6 linked regions of the Homo sapiens genome follow. The protein of the gene in region 6 purifies or fractionates together with the protein of the main gene of each other region. This does not show direct contact. Each region holds a gene or a part of one and is shown on either strand. Other genes may lie near its edges.

Region 1 (3,500 bases), on a different chromosome or scaffold from region 6:
TTTGGTGATAACCCCACACCATGGACTAAGAACATTAATGGAGGTACTATACTTACTCAAGTAGAGGCCAAGACCTCCAAATTCATACTAGTCTTTCAATTCCTGACATTTTCAGACTCTGGGGAGCACAGGAATGCAGTGATTAACAGGCTTAGACTAAACGTTCTGCCTTTAATATGCCATTTTAAACTACCTCTTCAGATCCAGCATGCATTCCTTGTAAGGAAATATCTACCAGAGGCCCCAAGAAGCCCAACAGATGTCATTCTCAGATGCAGGAGAAGCTTTAGAATTACAGAAAGGAGCCCCCAAGCCCCTGCATGAAGAGCTGAGCTCACTGCCCAATAAAGTGGTATCCAAGGAGCCATGTCTCGGTCTCACAAACTACCACCTGCCCACCTGTCAAAGTCAATGCCAGCTAATATAAACAAAGAAGTAAAGGAGGGCCGGGCGTGATGGTTCACACCTGTAATTCCAGCACTTTGGGAGGCTGAGGCGGGAGGATCATGAGGTCAGGAGTTCAAGACCAGCCTGGCCAGTATGGTGAAACCCCGTCTCTACTATAAACACAAAAATTAGTTGGGCATGGTGGTGCTCACCTGTAGTCCCAGGTACTCGGGAGGCTGAGACAGAAGAATCACTTGAACCCAGGAGGCGGAGGTTGCAGTGAGCCAAGATCGTGCCACTGTACTCTGCCCTGGGCGACAGAGCGAGACTCCGTCAAAAAAAAAAAAAGAAAGAAAGAAAGAAAGAAAAGGAAGGGAGGGAGGGAGGGGAAGTAAAGGAAGTTGGTTTTATTTATTTTACTACTGGCTCAATCACCAGAGAAAACTGGATATCAGTAAATCCCTGAAATGCAGTAAAAGTATTATTCTGTTTTAATCATATTCTTGACCATAAGTGGTAATCACAAATGGTCTTATCACATTATCTGTGAACTTGGGGAGTTACAGCCTCTCAAATGCGGTAATTATGTACTCGATTATGCCCTAGAACTGTTAGTGGATTTCTTTTGTACTTTTTCCCTTCTTCTGTATTGTACTTCAAAGCAGCCTTAGACTTAAGCCTGTTTATCAATCTGTTGACAATGCTAATGTAAAAAAGATGCCTGAAAGTATCCTTTCACCAAGAATCCATCCAATTCCACTGTAACCCCAAGTCCTAATAACACACAAGTCACAGGTAGCTGAGAAACAGTCTGACTATGATTCCCACTGCACACAACTGGGCGAGTCACTCAGCCAGATCATGCCACCCTGGGCAAGACTTCCTGCTAAGAGTAAGGAATGCTGATCTGAGTCAGTTCAATTTTCTACCTGTATCAAGGAAAATGGGACCAAGACAAAAATGTTCTTTGCATTAGTAAATTATAGGATGTATATTTAAATGAACTTTTAAAACACAAGATAAAAAACCCTTTAAAATGCCAACAATGGTCTTTGAAGGCCATTATTGTTATTACCATTATTAGACATATAGAGTAACAGTGACATTTTCTAAGTATGCATTATATGTTTAGGCAATGTGCTAAGCACTTTATTCATTATCATATTCAAAATTCATTTATTCATTATGATAAGTGCCATTATAATTTTTCTTAAAGATGTGGAAACTAACGTCCAAAAAAGTTAAATATTTTGCCCACGGTCACAAGCTAATAACAAAGAGTCTGGCCTGGAATCCAAAGTGAAAGCATGGTCTCTTAACACTTACCACAACTGTGGTCAATGTGTCTCACTGGCCTGAAAAGGTTTTTGTAGTTACTTAAGTTAAAGATATGCTTTGTCACCACTTAGTTTAATTAATAAATTAATTAATAATAATTCCTGGCCACAAAAAGCCAGGAACCTTTGACCAATTGTGCAACATACTATGATCACTAACTCCATAAAATTATAATCTTACTAGAGAATGGAGATAGAGAAGCACTGGGTCAAAGAGTTCTTAAAGCAACTGGGGGGAGGGTGAACAGTGTGAAAAGATAAGATGATTCTGAGGCAAGACTGCCTCTAGTTCTGATGATTCCAATGCCCTGCTCTGGAGAAGGCTGGCTTCAGAGAAGGAAGGAATTTACAAGACACTGGAAAAATTTCTCTGATGCTGTAGTCAGGAGCCAAATTAATAAAGGGCAGCACCTGAAAGTTTTATAAAACTCCGCAGTTTGCAAAGAGCTTCCACATACATCACATCTCATTTCATTCGCACAGTTCCACAAGGTTCATACATAGGGCAGGTGCGGAGACAGGTTTATGACTTGCCCAAAATCACTTAGGCAGTTAATCCTGAGTGGGGCTGGGACTAGAATGCAGGTCTTAGCTTAGTCTAGGGTTCTTTCCAATAAACTGTGCTGCCTCTAAACAAACTAAGGAATTCCTTGATAGCTGAACACTCATCAAAAACCATGAAAAGAGATCTATTCCCCCTCCAAACAGCATGGAAAAGAAAGAAAAGAAAAAGAAAAAGAGAAAAGAGAAAAGAACCCTCTTTACAAAGTACTGTGAAATCACAATTAGCAAGGGAAAGTTATTAGCAACCATCCACCTTATTATCCATCCAAAATTAGCTTCAATTCAGGAAAAGAACTGGCTCTCAGCAGCAGCAGCAGGAGGTTCAGAGCCTGACTCACTGCCCTGCCTTTCATTACTAAGGGCTTTCAAACAAATATGTACCTTCAACAAGAAAGCACACACTGCCTAAAGTTGGGAGGCCAACAGAAGCATCTGTTTGCTCTCTAGGTCAAGGGTCATCCAATATTTTGGAAAAACCCTAAATTTTGTAAGACAACCTCCTACCCCACCCTCTTCCCCACCATCGTCTCCACCCACTATCTTAAGTGACTGGGCCCAGATCTGCAAGAGTTTTGGGAAAGTATTAATATCAGTGCATTCAGAGCAACAGTGATAAAGAGGGAAACTGAACAGTGGTTACTGGCTTTGAGGGAGGAAGAGACTAGAAGCTGATGCTGGAGGGGGTAGCAGGCAGAGCATTAAAAATGGAGGCAGCAAACCCAAGAGAAGCGTAATGTAAAATTGCATAACTGGGGATGGGGGATGGGAGGCAAAGATGACAGCTGGGACTAGCAGCCGGAGAAAAGGAGGAGCTTGCTGGCAGGAAAAACTGGATGTGTGGATATGTAGCAGAGGGTGAGAAGAAAAAGGAAACACAGAAGAGCAAGTTGAGCCCAATCCCAGGAAAACTGCTTTCATATATGCCCTAAGGAAGTAAAAAAAGCTAGCCTAGCCCTATATAGGAGAGACTATCATGATTTTTCACATTTACCTCCAGGGCAACCCACAGAACAAGAAATCAGACTAACTTTCTCTCTCCCTCAACTGACTACTGCCAAGGCCAGGCCTTTAAGTCTTGCCTGCTTTTGTCACCTCTTTTAAAAACAGCTGTTCCCTTCAAACCCCCTCTACCTCTAATTCCCTGTGGCTGGCTCATGCTGTTCTCTCCTTCGTTCCTCGCAATAAAGAGAAAATGACAGCCAAGATCATAAG
Region 2 (3,500 bases), on a different chromosome or scaffold from region 6:
AACTCTCTCTTCTGCTGTGCAGGAAGAGTATTGGCCGCTTAGCTTCAGGTACTGAGCTGAATTGAGGTTGGGTTACAGTTTTATCTTTTTAAAAAATTTTCTTTTCTTGTGCCAACTCATCTGAGAGTTGTGGTTTTAAAAAGGCCCTATCTTAAATTCATCCCTTTTTTTTTTCTTTTTTGAGACAGAGTCTCAACTCTGTTGCCCAGGCTGGAGTGCAGTGGTGCGATCTCAGCTCACTGCAACCTCTGGCTCCTGGGCTCAAGTGATCCTCCTGCTTCAGCCTCCCAAGTAGCTGGGACCGTAGGCATGAGCCACCACGCCCAACTAATTTTTGTATGTTTTTGTTGAGATGGGGTTTCACCATGTTGCCCAGGCTGGTCTTGAAGTCCTTGGCTCAAGTGATTCTCCTGCCTTGGCCTCCCCAAGTGCCCAAGTGCTAGGATTATAGGTGTGAGCCACCACACCCAGCCTCACCCTTGTTTCTATTTTTTTTTTTTTTTTTTTTTTGGAGACAGAGTTTCATTCTTGTTGCCCAGGCTGGAGTGCAATGGCATGATCTTGGCTCACCACAACCTCAGCCTCCCGGGTTCAAGTGATTCTCCTGCCTCAGCCTCCTGAGTAACCGGGATTAGAGACGCACGCCACCACGCCCGGCTAATTTCTGTATTTCAGTAGAGATGGGGTTTCACCATGTTGGCCAGGCTGGTCTCAAACTCCTGACCTCAGGTGATCCACCCACTTTGGCCTCCCAAACTGCTGGGATTATGGGCGTGAGCCACTGTGCCTGGCCCCCTTGTTTCTTAATTGTAGCCCTCCAAGTCTTTCAACCAAGAACCTCGAATGTTCATTAGGCCTCTGCAGGCCTCTACCTCCAACAGGTGCTGACTTTCAGATCTTGTCTCCTCAGCATAAAACTTTGCTCTTCATGTCAGAGGCTTTTTCCTTAGTGTACTAGTTTCCTGTTGCTGCCGTAACAAATTATCACAAACTCAGTGCTGAAAATGGCACAAATATATTACTTTACAGTTCTGGAGATCAGAAATCCAAAATGGGTTTCATTGAACTAAAATGAAGATGTCAGCAGGGCTGCATTCCTTCTGGAGGCTCTAAGACTGAATCCATTTCCTCGTCTGTTCCAGTTAGAGGCCCCTGAACTCCTTAGCCCATAAGCCGTTTCCTCCAATTTCAAAGCCAGCAGCACAGCATCTTCAACTCTCTGACTCTGACCCACCTACTCCCTCTTTCTTTTGTAAGGACCCTTGTGATTTAGTCATACTAGTTACTTTATTTTATTTTATTCTATTTTTGAGAAAGAGTCTCACTCTGTTGCCCAGGCTGGAGTGCAGTGGTGCCATCTCGGCTCACTGCAAGCTCCGCCTCCTGGGTTCACGCCATTCTCCTGCCTCAGCCTCCCGAGTAGCTGGGACTACAGGCGCCCGCCACCACACCCGGCTAATTTTTTGTATTTTTAGTAGAGACGGGGTTTCACCACGTTAGCCAGGATGGTCTCGATCTCCTGACCTCGTGATCCGCCTGCCTCAGCCTCCCAAAGTGCTGGGATTACAGGCGCGAGCCACTGTGCCCGGCCTGAATTCAGCATGTCTTGAAAAGAAAACCTACCATGTGATACGCTCAGTTCTACTTTCTCCTTTTTTATGGGATCTTCCCTCCAGAATCTGATTTTACCTCCTTAGCTTTGTTAAGACTGCCGACTCTGCTGGGCACAGTGGCTCACTCCTGTAATCCTACCACTTTCGAAGGCCAAGGCGGGCAGATTGCCTGAGCTCAGGAGTTGGAGACCAACCTGGGCAATATGGTGAAACCCCGTCTCTACCAAAAATACAAAAAATTAGGGCCAAGCACAGTGGCTCATGCCTGTAATCCCAGCACTTTGGGAGGCCGAGGCCGGTGGATCACTTGAGGTCAAGAATTCGAGACCAGCCTGCCCAACATGGTGAAACCCCGTCTCTACTAAAAATACAAAAATTAGCCGGGCGTGGTGGTGGGTGCCTGTAGTCCCAGCTACTTGGGAGGCTGAGGTAGGATAATTGCTTCAACCCGGGAGGTTGTGGTTGCAGTGAGCCAAGATTGTGCCACTGCACTCCAGCCTGGGCAACAGAGTGAAACTCCATCTCAAAAAAAAAAAAGAAAAAAAAAAATTAGCCAGGCATGGTGGTGCATGCCTGTTATCCCAGCTACTCGGGAGGCTGAGACATGAGAAGTGCTTGGCCTGGGGAGGCAGAGGTTGCAGTGAGCTGAGATCGTGCCACTGCACTCCAGCCTGGGTGACAGAGCAAGACTCTGTCTCAAAGTAAAATTAATAAATAAAAAAATTTTAAAAAGTAAAGACTGCCAACTCTCCTACTAGTTAAATTTTCCCTCAGTAATTTGTTCTTTACCTGAGCAAGGCCCAGATTCTCAGCATCTAGCCCTGTGCCCTGAATTGGCAAATCCTCCAGGAAAAAAATCTGCTGCGGAATATCAGCTTACCTCCTAGAGTTCACCTCTTTCTGGAATTTTGGCTCCTCTAGGCCTGTTTGCTTTGGCAGCTCCCTGATTCATTTTATCCAGCTTTTCTTACTGTTCTTGGTGGGAGCATTATTAGCCTGCTACAAACTGTACCATTACACTTTTTCCAAGTCACACCTGTAATCCCAGCACTTTGGGAGGCTGAGGTGGGCCGATTGCTTGAGCTCAGGAGTTTGAGACCAGCCTGGCCCACATGGTGAAACCCTGTCTCTACAAAAAATATAAAAATTAGCCAGGCGTGGTAATGCACGTGTGTAGTCCCAGCTACTCGGAAGGCTGAGGCAGGAGAATCATTGAACCCGGGAGGTGGAGGTTGTAGTGAGCTGAGATTGTGCCACTGCACTCTAGCCTGGTTGACAGAGTGAGACTCCCTCTCAAAAAATAAAAATAAAATATAAATAAATAAAACAATTGGGGTCTCACTATTTTATATTTTTGTCTCAAAAAACAAACAACTCTCTCTTGTGGTGTGTGCTTGATTCTGCTTCTTGTCATGTCTTCTCACAAGTCTTTTAAGAGTAAGCGATTCCTGGCCAAGAAACAAAAGCCAAATCGTCCCATTCTCCAGTGGATCTGGTTGAAAACTGGTAATAAAATCAGGCACAACTGGAAAGGAGACATTGCAGAACAGCCAAGCTGGGTCTATAAGGAACTGCACGTGAGCTGGCACACATATTCACGCTGTATCAAGGTCACGGCCATCTTACTATAGCAAGCTGAAAACGTCACCACTGTCTGAACAGTTGGACGTGTTTTATTGGGAATATATTTTTTCTCTTTGCTTATATGCCCTGCGATAGTAGGCTGGGTTCAGTAATAAATATGTGAGACCTTTTGTTTCAGGAAAAAAAAGAACCAATATAATATAAGGTATATGTGTATGTTTCTCTGTGGGTATGGGTTGTGAACTGCCTGGGTGCAAAGCCAAGCTTTGTTACCTAGTTGTATGACCTTGTACACTTAATTTC
Region 3 (4,075 bases), on a different chromosome or scaffold from region 6:
TGCTAGCCTTTGCACCTGCACCCTTGTGGGGACCACCAAGGGGCCTCTTCCCGACCAAGGCCTTGTCAGCACCACTCACCCTGACTCCAGTCCCAGCCACCACGCCAGTTGGATTTGCATGTGTAAGACATGCGACAGTCTTCCCACCACTCCTCACAGTCCTCCTGGCACAGCGGCACATTCACAACTCGCTCTCCCTGCCCACTCGGGGCCACCTGGGTGCAGTCATAGCCAGAGATTAGAACATTAATAGCAGAGATGTGAAGACTACTAATAGCTACAGTGGTATTTGTACCAGGTACCATATGTACATCATCTTCCATAAAGCCTCTAAGTGTTATTTTACAAATAATACCAATGAGGCTAAGAGATTTAATAGTTTGTCCTGGGCTATACAGCTGGTAGGGACAGAACATGAGACTGAAGCTCAGGTCTGTCAACTCCACCAAGCCTCCTGTGGTGATAGCCCCTCATCCCACTGTTGTCAGAACAGTCTCCCCCATGTGATTCTCCAGCAGGGGCCTCTGGCTCTGCTCTTGTCCATAGGGAAATAACACCTCCTGTTCCTACTAGCATCCTGGCGGCATCAGCATAAGATCGGGTGAAAGCTCTGGCTGTTAATATAATAACAGGGCATGGCACAGATCTGCTTCCTACCTCCCACCCCAGGCTTCCCACTGGCTGGATCCAGGGCCCCAGGTTTGGGGAGCACTCATAGAAGCAGATAGCCTGGATGAAGTGCTTCCGACAGCCAGGCATCAGCAGTCCACAGTGAAACAGGCTGAAGTTGTAGAGTGGGGATACATCCAGATGGGCTTCCCAGCTTGTCGTGAGGGTGCAGCAGGCATTGTCCTTCCAGGGGATGCACTGAAGGCAGAGGAAGAAACAAAAGGCCCAGGCAAAAGGGGCAAGGATCGGCAAGTGTCTAGGGAAGAAAGGTGGTGAAATGAAAATGTCCCTTAGGAGGCCTGAGCAAGTGGGATGCCTTTAGCTAGTAAGCCCCTACATAAGAGGAACCCTGATAATCTCTCAATATTTACCCAAAGGGCAGAGGCACCTGCACAATGACCCCCTGCCACAGGCTGCTACAGTCCTCTAGAAACACAACTTCTGGGCTCTCAGCTCCTGAGAGGCAGCAGAAGCCTTTTAGGGCAAAGCAGGTAGAAGAGCCCCAGAGAGACCCAGGGGAATCTGGGGTTGCATTGGGTGGGAGGGTCTCATAGGCCAAATGCCAGCTGTGTTCTTCCTCCCATATCCCTGGAAATTGCCTTTAGGAGCTTGGGGAGGGGTCACATAAGTCATATGTTGCCCCAGGACCTGTTGGCAGGAAGGCTTGTTTTCATCTGTGCCGAGTCAACAATGGATCTCTGGGATCACCAGCGGTCCCTGCTTTCCCAGTGGCTAGAGCAGCTCAGAAATGGGAACTTTGAATCGCTTGGCTCTTATGGTCTCAAAAAGGCATAGTCTCTTTCCATCTAGTTGCCTTTGCTTAACTCCTAACCCCAGGAACCAAATGATCAGGGTTGATGAGGTTCGGAGACCATCTTGGCATTTGTGTCCCTTCCCTGATCTTCCCCATCCCATACCCAGGTCTGGCCTCTGTACCTCCTCATAGAGCTTGTCTTCTGGGCTGGGCACTCTCTTGTGGTGTTTGGCATTCATGCAGATGTTGAGCAGCTCGTCCCCAGCCCAGGTGGGCATGACTGTCCACAGCTCTAGCAGGAGCGGCCACCAGCATGCCATGGCCTGCTACAGAGAGACCCATGCTGCACACTTGATGGAAATGACACCCCACTCCACCCCCTTCATCATAGCAGGCACTGGGAAAGGGGGATGGGCTTCAATCTCCCTCAAATAATTGCAACACTCTGGCTGCTCCTAGGACCTTCTTTTGGAGGCAGCATCACAGAATGTCAGGGCAGGTAGAATAATCCTTGGAGGCCTGACACAGTGCTGGAGGCCTTGCTGGCCCTGCAGAGCCAGGGGCATGCCGAGGCATGAGTCAGATAGGAGGAGCCTTCTACATCCAAAGCCTGATCCCCATCACAGGAATGAGGAGGAGGGCCCTTCCTATTTCCAACTCTGTTCTGGGTAGTAGTGGTAATGAGAGGTAGTGGAAAGAGAGACAAAACAAAGCAAAAGGCAGAGGGGCCCCAGGCCTCAAGCACCCAACCTCTTAGGACACAGGGCCCCTCACCTTCATAGCCCAGGAGCCCATGGCTCCCCCAGTCCCCCAAGTCTGGCAGGAGCCTGACCTGGACCCATCATGGTGAAACTGGAAACTTCTAGCCTACCCTGGTCTAAGAGCCTCAAACATCCTGGGGAAGAAGAGCCCAGCCCCCCTCTTCAGAGCCCAACCTCAAGTCCAAATCTAAGGCTGTTCTCTCTCCAGACAACCAGTTTCAAGCTCAGCCATGGCCTTGAATATTTTTAAAGAATCAGATCTGTTAGGTAAAAGGAGGAAAGATGCTGCCCCTTCCAGCACTCTCTTCATACTCACTTTCAAGGCAGGAGCCTTCAGGTGCTCCTGCTCCCTCCTCCCCCTGAGACTATGAGGCTGAGGGGAGTTCCATGTCCCGCCCATTTATTACCCAGTCTGATTTCTACTAGGTCCAGGTGCAGGAGGAGAACTCCACGTGGCTCTCATTAAACAGCATCTGTCTCACCCAGCTCTGCAGGCCTGTGGGTTCCGAGGAAGTTTGCTTCCTCAGAGAAACAGACCCCATCGTAGGCAAGATCCGGGGCTCTACAATAAGTTACCGGGTTCGGCTGTCAGCTCTGCTACTTACTAGCTGGCTGCCCTGGAGAAAATGACTCAAATTCTCTGTCAGTTTCTCTCTCTGTAAAGGAAGTTTTTATTATGGGATTGGAAAAATAAAGAGAAAGTTCATGAACAAAAACCTTGGCATTGTGCCTGGGATAGAGGAAGTCTTAATGGTTTTAAATTTTATTCTTTTATCCTCTCTCCACACGCCCCTCCTATGTTCTGTTCCGTAGCTCTACCTGCCCCTTCACTGTTAGCCAAGCATCAGCTCAGTCACCTGGTGGCTTTTCTGACAGTGTCCTCGCACAGCCCACAGGAACTATGGTCCCTGCTGGAGCACAGACCGAGGACACAGGATGCAGAGATGAAGTGTGGCCTTGGGGACCCAAGAATTTAAACATACAAACAAAGCCAAAGCAAACAAAACAAAGAAAGTCCCTCCATAACCCGCCAAGCAGCCTCCCTTAGCATACAGGAATCGTTGTCCTGTGAAATATTCTACAAGTGTTCTCAGCAGTGATCATATTTGCAAGACTATCCTTTTCAGCTAAGGAGAGATTGGAAACTTGGATAGGATTCTTGGGAGAGTCCCAAAGATGATAAAAATGCTGGAAAAGGAGCATATTTCTTTGTTTTTATAATATGTCCTCTCTTTCTCTCTCTGAAAGAGAAGTAGCTGAAATCACTGAAGTTTTATTGATACAAAGGAAATGAAAACAAAACACTAAAAGCGTTTTTTTAATGGAATAAAATACATTCTGTGGTGTTCAGCTACAACTGATGTGTAAAGCATATACTAATGTTGGAAAATGACATTCTCCACACCTGGGTAATCACAGCCACTGAATGCTGAGCACAAACAAGGAGCCAGGCACTGGCCTGGTACTGTCTACAGGATCTGAGGTCTCAAAAAGACCTCCAATATGAACACCCTCCTTGTTTTAGCTGTGGGGAACTGAGGCTCAGCGGTGAGTAGCAGAGCTGGGATATAATTTCAGGTATTCTCGACTCCCTATCTAATGCTTAAGGACCAGGTGAGGGAGAAACCTCCGGGACTAAAAGAGTAGATACTGCCTGGGTGCCTGGGTCTCAAGTGAGGTCTGCTTTTTTTTTTTTTTTAACGTTAAATGCCATAATGAGGTTGTGCATGTATTGGGAGGCGTGTGTTGGCTTTATTCTAGAACAGTGACAGTTATTAACCCAGTCTCCCATGTCCCCACGTTAAGCAGAGCCTGGAGTCTCCTCCTTAGGGTCAGATACCAAATGGTAATAGCATCTCTATAGCCTGACAGAGGGAGAAGCAGGCTGTCA
Region 4 (4,214 bases), on a different chromosome or scaffold from region 6:
TAACATACATGGTGGTTTACGCCCATAATCCCAGCATTTTTGGAGGCGGAGGTGGGCGGATCACCTGAGGTCATGAGTTTGAGACCAGCCTGGTCAACATGGTGAAACCCTGTCTCTACTAAAAATAGAAAAAAAACCCTGTCTCTACCAAAAATAGAAAAATTAGCCAGGCATGGTGGCATGCTCCTGCAGTCCCAGCTACTCCGGAGGCTGAGGCAGGAGAATCACTCGAACCCGGGAGGCAGAGGTTGCAGTGAGCTCAGATCACACCACTGCACTCCAGCCTGGGCGAAAGGGCAAGACTCTGTTTCAAAAGAAAAAAAAAAAAAGTTAAACTAGGCATCTAAATTTGCATTGCTTTTATGAGTATAACCACGGAGTAGCATAATACAGGTTCTAGAAAGCTACAGTTTAAGTAAGAAAAAGGGGGGCCATATAAGTGCTTGTATAGATGCATAAGAAACTAACAGCTGGGTGTGGTGGCTCACGCCTGTAATCCTAACACTTTGGGAGGCCAACGTGGGTGAATCACTTGAGCCCAGGAGTTCAAGACCAGCCTGGGCAACATGGCAAAACCCCAACTCTACAAAAAAAAAATACAAAAAAATTAGCAGGGTGTGGTGGCGTGCACCAGTAGTCCCAGATACTTGGGGAATTAAGGCAGGAGGATCACTTGAGCCCAGGAGGGTCAAGTTTGCAAGAAAAAAAAAAAAAGAAACTAACAATGGTTGTTTCTAAAGGAGGAGAGACTGAGACTGGGGGTTAGGAGAGTGGGAATTTTATTTTTCACTTAGATCCTTTTACATCATTTATTTTTTTACTGTGTGCAAGTATTACCTGTAAACAATCCTAAAATTCGTATGGAACCACAAAAGACTCAGAAAAGCCAAAAGAAGCCTGGACGAAAAGAACAAAGCTTGAGGTATCACACTACCTGATTTCAAAATATACCAGAAAGGTATAGTAACCAAAAGAGCATGGTATTGGTATAAAACACAGACCAATGGAATAGAATAGAGGACCCAGAAATAAATCCACTTATTTACGGCCAACTGATTTTCGACAAAGGCATCGAAAAAACAAAACAAAACAAAAACAACAACAAAAACGAAAAAAAAAACCTACCATAAATCAGCAATACCACTACTGGGTATTTATTCAAAGGAACGGAAATTAGTACATCAAAGGCATCCCTACATCCTCATGTTCATATTGCAGCACTATTCATAATAGCTAAATTATGGAATTAGCGTCCATCAATAGGTAAATGGATAAAGAAAATGTGGGCCAGGCGTGGTGGCTCACGCCTGTAATCCCAGCACTTTGGGAGGCTGAGGCGAGCAGATCACGAGGTCAGGAGATCGAGACCACCGTGTTGAGGCGGACTAACACGGTGAAACCCCGTCTCTACTAAAAATACAAAAAATTAGCTGGGCGTGGTGGTGGGCGCCTGTAGTCCCAGCTACTCGGGAGGCTGAGGCGGGAGAATCACTTGAACCTGGGAGGCGGAGGTGGCAGTGAACTAAGATGGTGCCACTGCACTCCAGCCTGAGCGACAGAGACACACTCCATCTCAAAAAAAAAAAAAAAAAAAGAAATAATGAATGTTTAAGGTGATGGATATTCTATAATAAATATAGCCTGATTTGATCATTACACATCATATGCATGTATCAAAATATTACATGTATATCTACAACATAAATGTGTACAACTATTATATATCAATTTTTTTTACAGCTTAAGAAGTGATGTGAAAAATGAAGTTATACATATTTGAAGCATTATTACATGTTTGTAATGATGTGGAGATATTGTGGTGTAATAATGAAAAACACAGAACCCACAATTGCACATTCAATAGGGGCTAAACTGTATAAACCAAAAACAAGCAAAAAAGACTAGAAGTCATATGACTACTGTAAGTGGTTGCCTCTAGGTGATGACACGGTTTCTTTTTTCAATTTTTTTATTACAAGCTCTAGATTTCTAAATAAGATTTTTGAAAAAGTAATATATTCACATGGCTTAAAATTTGAAACTTTTTCAAATTTTGCCCAAGCTGTGAGGATTACAAACACAAAACCTGTAACGGCGTTGAGAACCCACAGCTGCAGCAAGCAAGGTAGAAAGCAAGCTTTGGGATCCCCAAGAGCAGACCCCGCCCGTTCCTGACTCTGGCACCCAGTCCCAGCGGCTAGAAAGAACCACGCCGACAGAGTGGCGGCCGTCAAGCTTCTAGGGTTCAAATCCATCTCCACTATTTCCTGGGGCAAAGCACTTGGCTTCTCGGGGCGCTGAATAACAGATATGTATAACAAAATGGGACTAAAGATTGTATCTACCTCACAGAGCTGGGAGGAGGCGGAGGAAATACAAGATACATAAAGTGCTTGGCAGAGCCTGCCACAAACTGAGCTCCCGGGAAACGTTGCCAGGGTTGCCATCGCGCACCAAGGCCCCAAAACTCTAGGCTGCAGGGCCGCCGCCCACCCCTCGCCCATCATCTCTTCCTGGCCGAGGCTGGGCTCCCGCTTCCGGTCAAGGGGCAGCGGGATCCGGCGGCCCCGCCTCGGTCAGGCTTTAGAGGCCTCCGCCGCCGGGTTCCACCCTCAAGTCGGCTGGGGCCCGGGCCCGGCCACGCCCAGCCACCACCGATTCCCTGTCCGGAGCTCTGAGATCCCCTCATCCTCGGAAGACTGAAGGCCTGGCGTGGGGTGGTGGGCGGCCGCCAGCCACAAGACCCCGGCGCACGCTCACCATTTCCGACCGATCCGGTAGCCCCGCGTAGCGAACACTTAGCGAGTCCTGTGCCTTTCTGCGCCTGCGCAAAGGTTTCTGTCAAAACGGACAGCTCTAGCTGCCTATCAGGAGCCAGCGTGAGGCGGGGGCGGGCGAGCCGATCTTGGCTCCGCCAGGATTCTTGGAAAATCTGCTTTCCACTGTGGCAAAGCGAAAAGCTAAGGAGCAGTGCGCTAAGCTGTGGAAAATTCCCAACTCCAGCCGTGCAGAAAAGATGCTGGTTCTGGCTGGACGCGGTGGCTTACGCCTGTAATTCCAGCACTTTGGGAGGCCGAGTCGGAAGGATTGCTTGAGCCCAAGAGTTCGAGACCAGCCTGGGCAACATGGAGAGACCCCTTCTCTACTAAAAAATAAACAAAATTAGCCGGGCGTGGTGGCGCGCTCGTGTAGTTCCAGTTACTCCAGAGGCTGAGGTAGGAGGATCGCCTGACCAGGAGTTCGAGGCTGCAGTGAGCCGAGATTGCGCCACTGCACCCCAGCCTGGGCGACAGAGCAAGAGACCCTGACTAAAACAAAACAAAACAAAAACCATGCTGGTTCTCGGTATCGGAAGAGGCTTTCAGTGCTGGTTCTCGGTATCGGAAGAGGCTTTCAGCTCTCAATGGAGGTCTAAGCTGGTTCTGGAGTCCCTGAGTGGAGCGTGGTGGGAGGGTATGAAGGCAAGTGGGACGGTTGCTGAGACCCGCTTTGCGCCCAGACTGAGCCAGAGAGAGGCCCAGGGCCAAAATGCGCTTCGGGATCGGGCAGGCCTGGGGTGGGGCTGGAGTCAGGTACCTCGAGTCTCCGGGTAAGATGCCGTGCAAGCTCGGAGATGAATTGGTTAGGGCTGGCCTGGGAGTCTTTAGAATCCGAGCTCAGCCCCGCCTCGCGTTACCTAGCAGAAGGCACTTCACATCTGTGTGTTCTGTCTTGTTCTCACCTCTGAAAGGGGGACTCTTCCCAGAGCCCTATGTTGTCCTGTTCCGGCAGGCCGCAAACGTTTCTGGGTCCTCTAGGAGTAAATAACTTCTGTTAAAACATGCTGCCGTTTAGTGAACCCTGTGCCACATTACTGTGCTGAACACGCACATAACGTTATCTCCGGTAGCTTCAGGGAAGTATCGGTAACCTCGATACTTTATAAATGCTGTTTCTCCCAGGCACTGTAGCTTGCTGGATTCAACGATGATCTAACTCCAAAGTTTCATTCCACAGTAGCTGCTCTTCAGTGAGGAAGGATTTGGTTCTCCTTCCAGGAGTGTCTGCATGTTAAGAGGATTGACTTTACTGCGAAGAAACCTAGCAGACACCACCGTAACCAGATCAAAGTTAGTATTACTGGCAAGGGGAGATATTGATGCCGTGTGCCCCGATAAAAATGCGTTAAGGGCACATCACCTCCGAGTCATTTTCCACAAAAACTCCCAGCCTTA
Region 5 (3,500 bases), on a different chromosome or scaffold from region 6:
GGCTGAGGCAGGAGAATGGTGTGAACCCAGGAGACGGAGCTTGCAGTGAGCCGAGATCATGCCACTGCACTCTAGCCTGGGCGACAGTGCGAGACTCCGTCTCAAAAAAAAAAAAAAAGGCAATCCAGAAGAAAGCATTGTTATCACAGGAAGTCACATCTCCATGTGTGTTACTGCCCCTGAAGATCTTCCAGTGAGACAAGATGTGGAGGTGAAAGCCAGTGATGTTGATGATCCTGACCCTATGTAGGCCTAGGCTAATGTGTATATTTCTTCGTTTTTAACAAAAAGTTTGAAAAGCAAAATAATATTTAAAATTTTTCAAATTTAAGCTTATTTCTTGGAAAAAATACAAATAAATAAAATTTTAAATTAAAAAAAGAATTTCAGGCGGGGCGCAGTAACTCATGTCTGTAATCCCAGCACTTTGGGAGGCTGAGGCGGGCGGATCACGAGGTCAGGAGATCGAGACCATCCTGACTAATACGGTGAAACCCCATCTCTACTAAAAATACAAAAAATTAGCTGGGTATGATGGCACACACCTATAGTCCCAGCTACTCGGGAGGCTGAGGCAGGAGAATCACTTGAACCCAGGAGGCGGAGGTTACACTGAGCCGAGATCACGCCATTGCACTCCAGCCTGGGCGAAAGAGCGAGACTCTGTCTCAAAAACAAAAAACAAAAAACAAAAATTTTATTTTCAAGCCAGGAGACAGAGATTCATATTGCCCTGAATATATGCTCCCCGCCCAAAACAAAATTTAGATAGAAAAAAAGCATGAGGAATAAGGATATAAAGGAATAAAATATTTCTGTAAAGCTATACAATGTTTGTGTTTTCAGTTGTTATTACAAGAGTCAAAAAGTTAGCCGGGCGCAGTGGCTCACGCCTGTAATCCCAACACTTTGGGAAGCTGAGGCAGGCAGATCACGAGGTCAGGAGATCGAGACCATCCTGGCTAACATGGTGAAACCCTGTCTCTATTAAAAATACAAAAAAACAAAATTAGCCAAGTGTGGTGGAGGGCGCCTGTAGTCCCAGCTACGCGGAAGGCTGAGGCAGGAAAATGGCGGGAACCCGGGAGGCGGAGCTTGCAGTGAGCCGAGATTGTGCCACTGCACTCCAGCCTGGGCGACAGAGCGAGACTCCATCTCAAAAAAAAAAGAGAGAGAAGCTCTCGGCTTTCGGCTCGGAGGAGGCCAAGGTGCAACTTTCTTCGGTCATCCTGAATCTGGGTTCATCCGACACCAGCTGCCTCCACCATGCCACCGAAGTTCGACCCCAACGAGATCAAGGTCGTATACCTGAGGTGCACCAGAGGTGAAGTCGGTGCCACTTCTGCCCTGGCCCCCAAGATCGGCCCCCTGGGTCTGTCTCCAAAAAAGGTTGGTGATGACATTGCCAAGGCAACGGGTGACTGGAAGGGCCTGAGGATTACAGTGAAACTGACCATTGAGAACAGACAGGCCCAGATTGAGGTGGTGCCTTCTGCCTCTGCCCCGATCATCAAAGCCCTCAAGAAACCACCAAGAGACAGAAAGAAACAGAAAAACATTAAACACAATGGGAATATCACTTTTGATGAGATCGTCAACATTGCTCGACAGATGCGGCACCGATCCTTAGCCAGAGAACTCTCTGGAACCATTAAAGAGATTCCGGGGACTGCCCAGTCTATGGGCTGTAATGTTGATGGCCACCACCCTCATGACATCATAGATGACATCAACAGTGGTGCTGTGGAATGCCCAGCTAGTTAAGCACAAAGGAAAATATTTCAATAAAGGATCATTTGACAACTGGTCGAAAAAAAAAAGTTAAAAAAAGATTAAAATGTTACATCAGCCTTGGCAAGTGGGAAAAAAAATGTTAAGTTTATAAAGTAAAATAGTTATAGTAAACTAAGGTTAATTTATTATAAAAGAACTATTTTTTATAAATTTGATGTAGCCTAACTGTACCATGTTTCTAAAGTCTACAGCAGTGTACAGTAAGGCCCTAGGCCTTCACATTCACTCACCACTCACTCACTAACTCACCCAGAGCAACTTCCATTCAAACATGCTCCATTTAATGGTTAGTACCCTGTACAGGTGTGCCATTTTTTATCATTTATATTATATTTTAACTGTACCTTTTCTATGTTTAGGTATGTTTATATACACAAATGGTTACCACTGTGTTATGTTACCTACCATGCTTCAGTATAGTAACACGCCACACAGGCTTGTTGCCCAAGAACAATAGGCTATCGCAGATAGCCTAGGTGTGTAGCAGGCTAGATCATCTAGGTTTCAGTAAGTACATTCTATGATGTTTCCACAATAATGCATTTCTGATAATGTATCTGCATTGCCAAGTGACACATGACCATAACTGTTATACTGTATTTTTTGGTTTTATTTTTTATTTTCCATGAATATTTTCTCATTTTTTTTTTTGAGACCGAGTCTCGCTCTGTCGCCAGGCTGGCACAATCTCGGCTCACTGCAACCTCCACCTCCTGGGTTCTAAGCAATTCTCCTGCCTCAGCCTCCAGAGTAGCTGGGATTACAGGCACGGGCCATCACGTCTGGCTAATTTTATATTTTTAGTAGAGACAGGGTTTCAACCATATTGGCCAGGCTGGTCTGGAACTCCGGACCTCAGGTAATCTACACACCTTGGCCCCCCAAAGTGCTGGGATTACAGGCATGAGCCACTGTGCCCACTCTCCTTGAATATTTTCAACCGATGGTTGGTTGAATCTGCAGAAGCAGAACCCACGGATACAGAGGGCCAACTGTACTCCATATGCCAAAAAGCAATTTGGATTAAGATAAGTAAAAGCAGGACCATGTCTAAAGTATGCCACCATTTATGTAAAAAAGGTGGGGGAGTATAGTCTTACTTGCTTGAATACCAATAGAATTTCCCTGGAAGAACACACAGTTGCCCTGGGTAGCAGAATTGGGTGGCTGGAGGACAGAAATAGGAAGCAAACTTCACTATACAACAACCTTTGTGCCTTTGGAATTTTGAACCAAATGAAATGTTATTACCTATTCAAAATAGGCTGGGTGCGGTGCCTCACACCTATAATCCCAGCACTTTGGAAGGCAGAGGCGGGTGGATCACCTGAGGTCAGGAGTTCAAGACCAGCCTGGCCAACATGGCGAAACCCCATCTCTACTGAAAAAAATACAAAAATTAGCTGGGCATGGTGTGGGCACCTGTAATCCCAGCTACTCGGGAGGCTGAGGTAGGAGAATCGTTTGAACCTGGGAGGAGGAGGTTGCAGTGAGTGAGATTGAGCCACTGCACTCCAGCCTGGGCGATAGAGCGAGACTCTGTCTCAAAAAAAATAAAATAAAATTGAAAGAAAAGAAACAAGTGAGTTGAAGAGCACTGGACTTCCATGTCCTTGGAGTCTATCCATCCTGAGAGCCCACCTGTGGTCTGGCCTTGTGTCTGTGGCACTGTAGTGAGGGATGGAACTCTTGGGTGGGATGTGGTA
Region 6 (3,500 bases):
CTTTCTAGCTTTTCTCATCACCACTGAGGCCCACTTCCAATTCTGCCAGGTCCCCTTTCAGTTGTCTCTCCCTTCTCTAACAGCCAGATAACTCTCTTTGAAAGTGGAGCAGGAACCATGTCTTACCTTTTTTTTTTTTTAACCCCCACAGTGCCTATTTACATTTTCAGCAAATGTTTAATTGATTTTTGAGCATAAAAGATGAAAACAAAGTTATCATAATAAGCCCTTTGACACATTTCCTATAACTGTTAGACAGTGCTAAAAGTCTTGCTTTTAAAAAAATTAGAAATATGTACCTTTGGTGGAAAGAGCTTTTCATACACTTTTTTCCACAACTCCATAGGTGAGTGGGCATGAAGCTTTCCAATGTCATTTTCAGGAACAGGAGGAGATCCTAAAATAGCAAGTTTTACCACAAATGACTGCAATGATTAAAATATTACAAACTCCACCAATAAAAGAAATGACACTAACAAAGGTATACATCTCGGATCACTCATTTTCCCTCTCCTTAATATAGTCACCATAAAAATTTACCCTACCCAGCATAGCAAGGTCACTGGGACAGATTCTAGTACTGAAAGAAGAGGAGGCAAAGAGTAATGGGTAAACTGTAACTCTCATTCTCCACACCCTATACCTATACCTGTATCTATATCCTATTAACCAGTAATTCCAGTTTTTGGTAGTGTTTGCCCTAGAAACACCTGCAAACTGGTACTGTATTAAGGATTTCACACTGCAGTATAATTTGTTATCAGTGAAAAATTGACCTACAACCAAAATATTCATCAGTGGTGAACAGTGCATTAATTACTATGCATAGCCATGCTCTGTAACACTATCCAACAGTTAAAATAAGAAATAGACCCACATACAGCATTAATATGGAAAAACTACTAAGGTATATTGGTATATTGAATTAAAAGGTACTGAATAATAGGGTATATTGAATAAAAAGGGGAAATTCCAAAATGATATAGACTGAACACATAATTACATTAAAGCAAATAGTTTTTTTACACTATATACACATGTGTGTAAAGGCATAGGAAATTGGAAAGAACACAAATTTGCTCCTTGTATGTACTCTTTTACCTTTTTACAAGGAGATATCTTTATGTGTTACTTGTATAATTTAATTTGAAAAATTTAAAACTTTGCTGCCATTTGCAATTTGTAACTGGATATTTCCCATCTTTCTATTTCCAACAACTGTATTGTTCCCCAAAACTGTTTTACTGGTGATCTTCCAGGACATCCTTACCACTTTGGTGCGAAAGCCATTGATACGCTCCACTGATGTTATTCAGCTTTGCCAAGTTTTACTTGTATTCCTTTGTGTGTCTGTGTGTATATTAAGTTCTATACAATTTTATCACCTGCATAGGTTCATGTATTTGCTACCACAGTCGAGACACCAACTTAATTCCACTAGCACAAAGATCCTGTGTTGCCGTTTTATAGACATAACCTCCTCCTTCCCGACCCCTCCCCTGGTCTCCCCATCCATAGTTCTATCCCTGCCCTCTGACCACCACTAATCTGCCTCCATTTCTAAAATGTTTTTCATTTCAAAATTTTTTATAAATAGAATCACACTGTATGTAATCTTTTCTAATTGGCTGCTTTTCACTCAGCATGATTCCCTGGAGATTCATCCAGTCTGTGTGTATCAATTATTTGTTCCTTTGTATGACTGAGTAGTGTTTCCTGGTACAGATGTACCACAGTTGTTTAGTCACTCACCTGCTGAACAACTTCTGGGCTGTTTCTAGGTTTTGACTACTAAACATAAAGCTGCCATGAACATATGCCTAGAGATTTTTTGTGTGAGAGTTAAGTTTTCATTTATCTTGGATAAATGCCCAACAGCACAATTTCTAGGTCATATGGTAGTTGCATGTTTAGTTTCGTAAGAAACTGTTAAACTGTTTTCTAGAGTGGCTGTACCATTTTACACTCCCACCACCAATGTATGAGAGATCTGGTTTCTCTGCATCCTTGCCAGTATTTGGTGGTGTCACTATTTTTTATTTTAGCTATCCTGTTAAATGTATAGTGATATTTCATTGTGGTTTCAATTTGCATTTCCCTAACAACTAATGATATTAAACACCTTTTCATGTGCTGCTTTGCTATGTTTATGTCCTCTCTGAAATGAAATGTCTGCTTATGTCTTTTGCCCACTTTCTAATTGGATTATTTATTTTTCTGTTGAGTTTATATATTCTAAACACTAGTCCTTTGTCATATATGTGGTTTGAAATTCTTTTCTCCCACACTATGGCACGTCTATTCATCTTCACATGGGCTTTCATAGAGCAAAAGTTTTTAATTCCGATGAGATCTAGGCGCCATGATTTTTAAATTCAGCAATTATGAACTCTCTTCTGGCCTCCAACTATTCATAGAAGCAAAAGAATTCCATCAGCATTATCTATCAGTACAACAGTGATTCTCACTGCTACTGGAATTAAGTTGGTGCTAATTATAATCATAAACATCAGTCTCCATGACCATTCACTAAGCAAAATCACCTCCATTCCTTTCATTCCAATTAATCTATAATCTCATTACAAAGATTTCTATATTTGAAGTCAAGTCACCTTTAGCTTGTAAGACTAACAGAGGATGGGAAATACAAAAAAAAAAAAAAAACCCTACTGCCCATTAGAGTTTTAAAAGCAAACTACGCCACCTGCAGAGGATAAAGAAGTGCGAGGCTCAAAGATCTTCACAATGAAAACAGTTTCTGTGGGAAGGTAAGGGCCTTGAGATATAAACTCTTAAACTTCCTTTTGATTCAGAAGCCTATAGAGTCTATGAGTTTAGGAAATACATTCCATTAGATGAGGCATGCTATTTCATAACAAAAAATCAAATCATACCTAATTGTTACAACTGTGTTCTTTTTGGTTTACTCTACCACTTCAGTCTCTCATATACTTGCTAATTGCCTGTAATATGTAGCTTTGAATTTCCTCACTACTCTATGCTCCTAGCTTCTTTAAAGCCAAGGAGCTAAAATTTAAAAGTACCTGGAAATCAGTTGGGGAAAGAAAATACTTGCAATTTGTTTTTCAGTGGAATAGAGATCAGAAATGAAAAATCAGTCTCTTATGTGGTGACATCACTTCCATCACAAACATGTCAATGTGATGCATGTTACATTAATACTGGGCATATAAACAAACACACAGGAAATAACAGCAATGATAATGAAACCAGAAATAGGAGTATGTTGGAGACAAAGTGAACATGGAGTAGGACAAAATCAATAAGCAATTAAAAAAAGATTGAACAATCTTAATAAGTTCACTAACCTATTTGACCGAAAGAATCCAATCCTGCTGTGATAAACAGCGGTTTATTCTGATCCACACATATTGATTTGCTACGTGGAGAAGAGAAAGATTCTAAATTAGTTTAGCAATTAGATTTGCTGCCACGCTCTCCTGTAAATATGACAGCAATATTATCGGCTAGTTTTACAT

Evidence for each region.
Region 1: the proteins of DYNC2LI1 (region 6) and NPTN purify together in Homo sapiens (affinity purification with mass spectrometry; one large-scale study listed by BioGRID and IntAct). This does not show direct contact.
Region 2: the proteins of DYNC2LI1 (region 6) and DYNLT2B purify together in Homo sapiens (affinity purification with mass spectrometry; one large-scale study listed by BioGRID and IntAct). This does not show direct contact.
Region 3: the proteins of DYNC2LI1 (region 6) and IZUMO1R purify together in Homo sapiens (co-immunoprecipitation; one large-scale study listed by IntAct). This does not show direct contact.
Region 4: the proteins of DYNC2LI1 (region 6) and DYNLRB1 purify together in Homo sapiens (affinity purification with mass spectrometry; one large-scale study listed by BioGRID and IntAct). This does not show direct contact.
Region 5: the proteins of DYNC2LI1 (region 6) and KIFC1 purify together in Homo sapiens (affinity purification with mass spectrometry; one large-scale study listed by BioGRID and IntAct). This does not show direct contact.

The regions. Positions count from the first base shown.
Region 1 is NC_000015.10:73,598,890-73,602,389, forward strand, and holds part of NPTN (neuroplastin isoform b precursor), read right to left. Parts: intron 1-3,500. UniProt on the Homo sapiens protein: Probable homophilic and heterophilic cell adhesion molecule involved in long term potentiation at hippocampal excitatory synapses through activation of p38MAPK. May also regulate neurite outgrowth by activating the FGFR1 signaling pathway.
Region 2 is NC_000003.12:196,297,741-196,301,240, reverse strand, and holds part of DYNLT2B (dynein light chain Tctex-type protein 2B), read left to right. Parts: intron 1-3,500. UniProt on the Homo sapiens protein: Acts as one of several non-catalytic accessory components of the cytoplasmic dynein 2 complex (dynein-2 complex), a motor protein complex that drives the movement of cargos along microtubules within cilia and flagella in concert with the intraflagellar transport (IFT) system.
Region 3 is NC_000011.10:94,303,305-94,307,379, reverse strand, and holds the start of IZUMO1R (sperm-egg fusion protein Juno precursor), read right to left. Parts: upstream 2,801-4,075; 5' UTR 2,501-2,800; intron 1,760-2,500; exon of another isoform or gene 1,750-1,759; 5' UTR 1,744-1,749; coding exon 1,606-1,743; intron 868-1,605; coding exon 658-867; intron 216-657; coding exon 80-215; intron 1-79. UniProt on the Homo sapiens protein: Receptor for IZUMO1 present at the cell surface of oocytes (oolemma), which is essential for species-specific gamete recognition and fertilization.
Region 4 is NC_000020.11:34,515,008-34,519,221, reverse strand, and holds the start of DYNLRB1 (dynein light chain roadblock-type 1), read right to left. Parts: upstream 2,801-4,214; 5' UTR 2,764-2,800; coding exon 2,761-2,763; intron 1-2,760. UniProt on the Homo sapiens protein: Acts as one of several non-catalytic accessory components of the cytoplasmic dynein 1 complex that are thought to be involved in linking dynein to cargos and to adapter proteins that regulate dynein function.
Region 5 is NC_000006.12:33,398,323-33,401,822, reverse strand, and holds part of KIFC1 (kinesin-like protein KIFC1), read right to left. Parts: coding exon 3,436-3,500; intron 1,812-3,435; exon of another isoform or gene 1,179-1,811; intron 1-1,178. UniProt on the Homo sapiens protein: Minus end-directed microtubule-dependent motor required for bipolar spindle formation. May contribute to movement of early endocytic vesicles. Regulates cilium formation and structure.
Region 6 is NC_000002.12:43,801,539-43,805,038, reverse strand, and holds part of DYNC2LI1 (cytoplasmic dynein 2 light intermediate chain 1), read right to left. Parts: intron 3,401-3,500; coding exon 3,330-3,400; intron 398-3,329; coding exon 300-397; intron 1-299. UniProt on the Homo sapiens protein: Acts as one of several non-catalytic accessory components of the cytoplasmic dynein 2 complex (dynein-2 complex), a motor protein complex that drives the movement of cargos along microtubules within cilia and flagella in concert with the intraflagellar transport (IFT) system, facilitating the assembly of these organelles.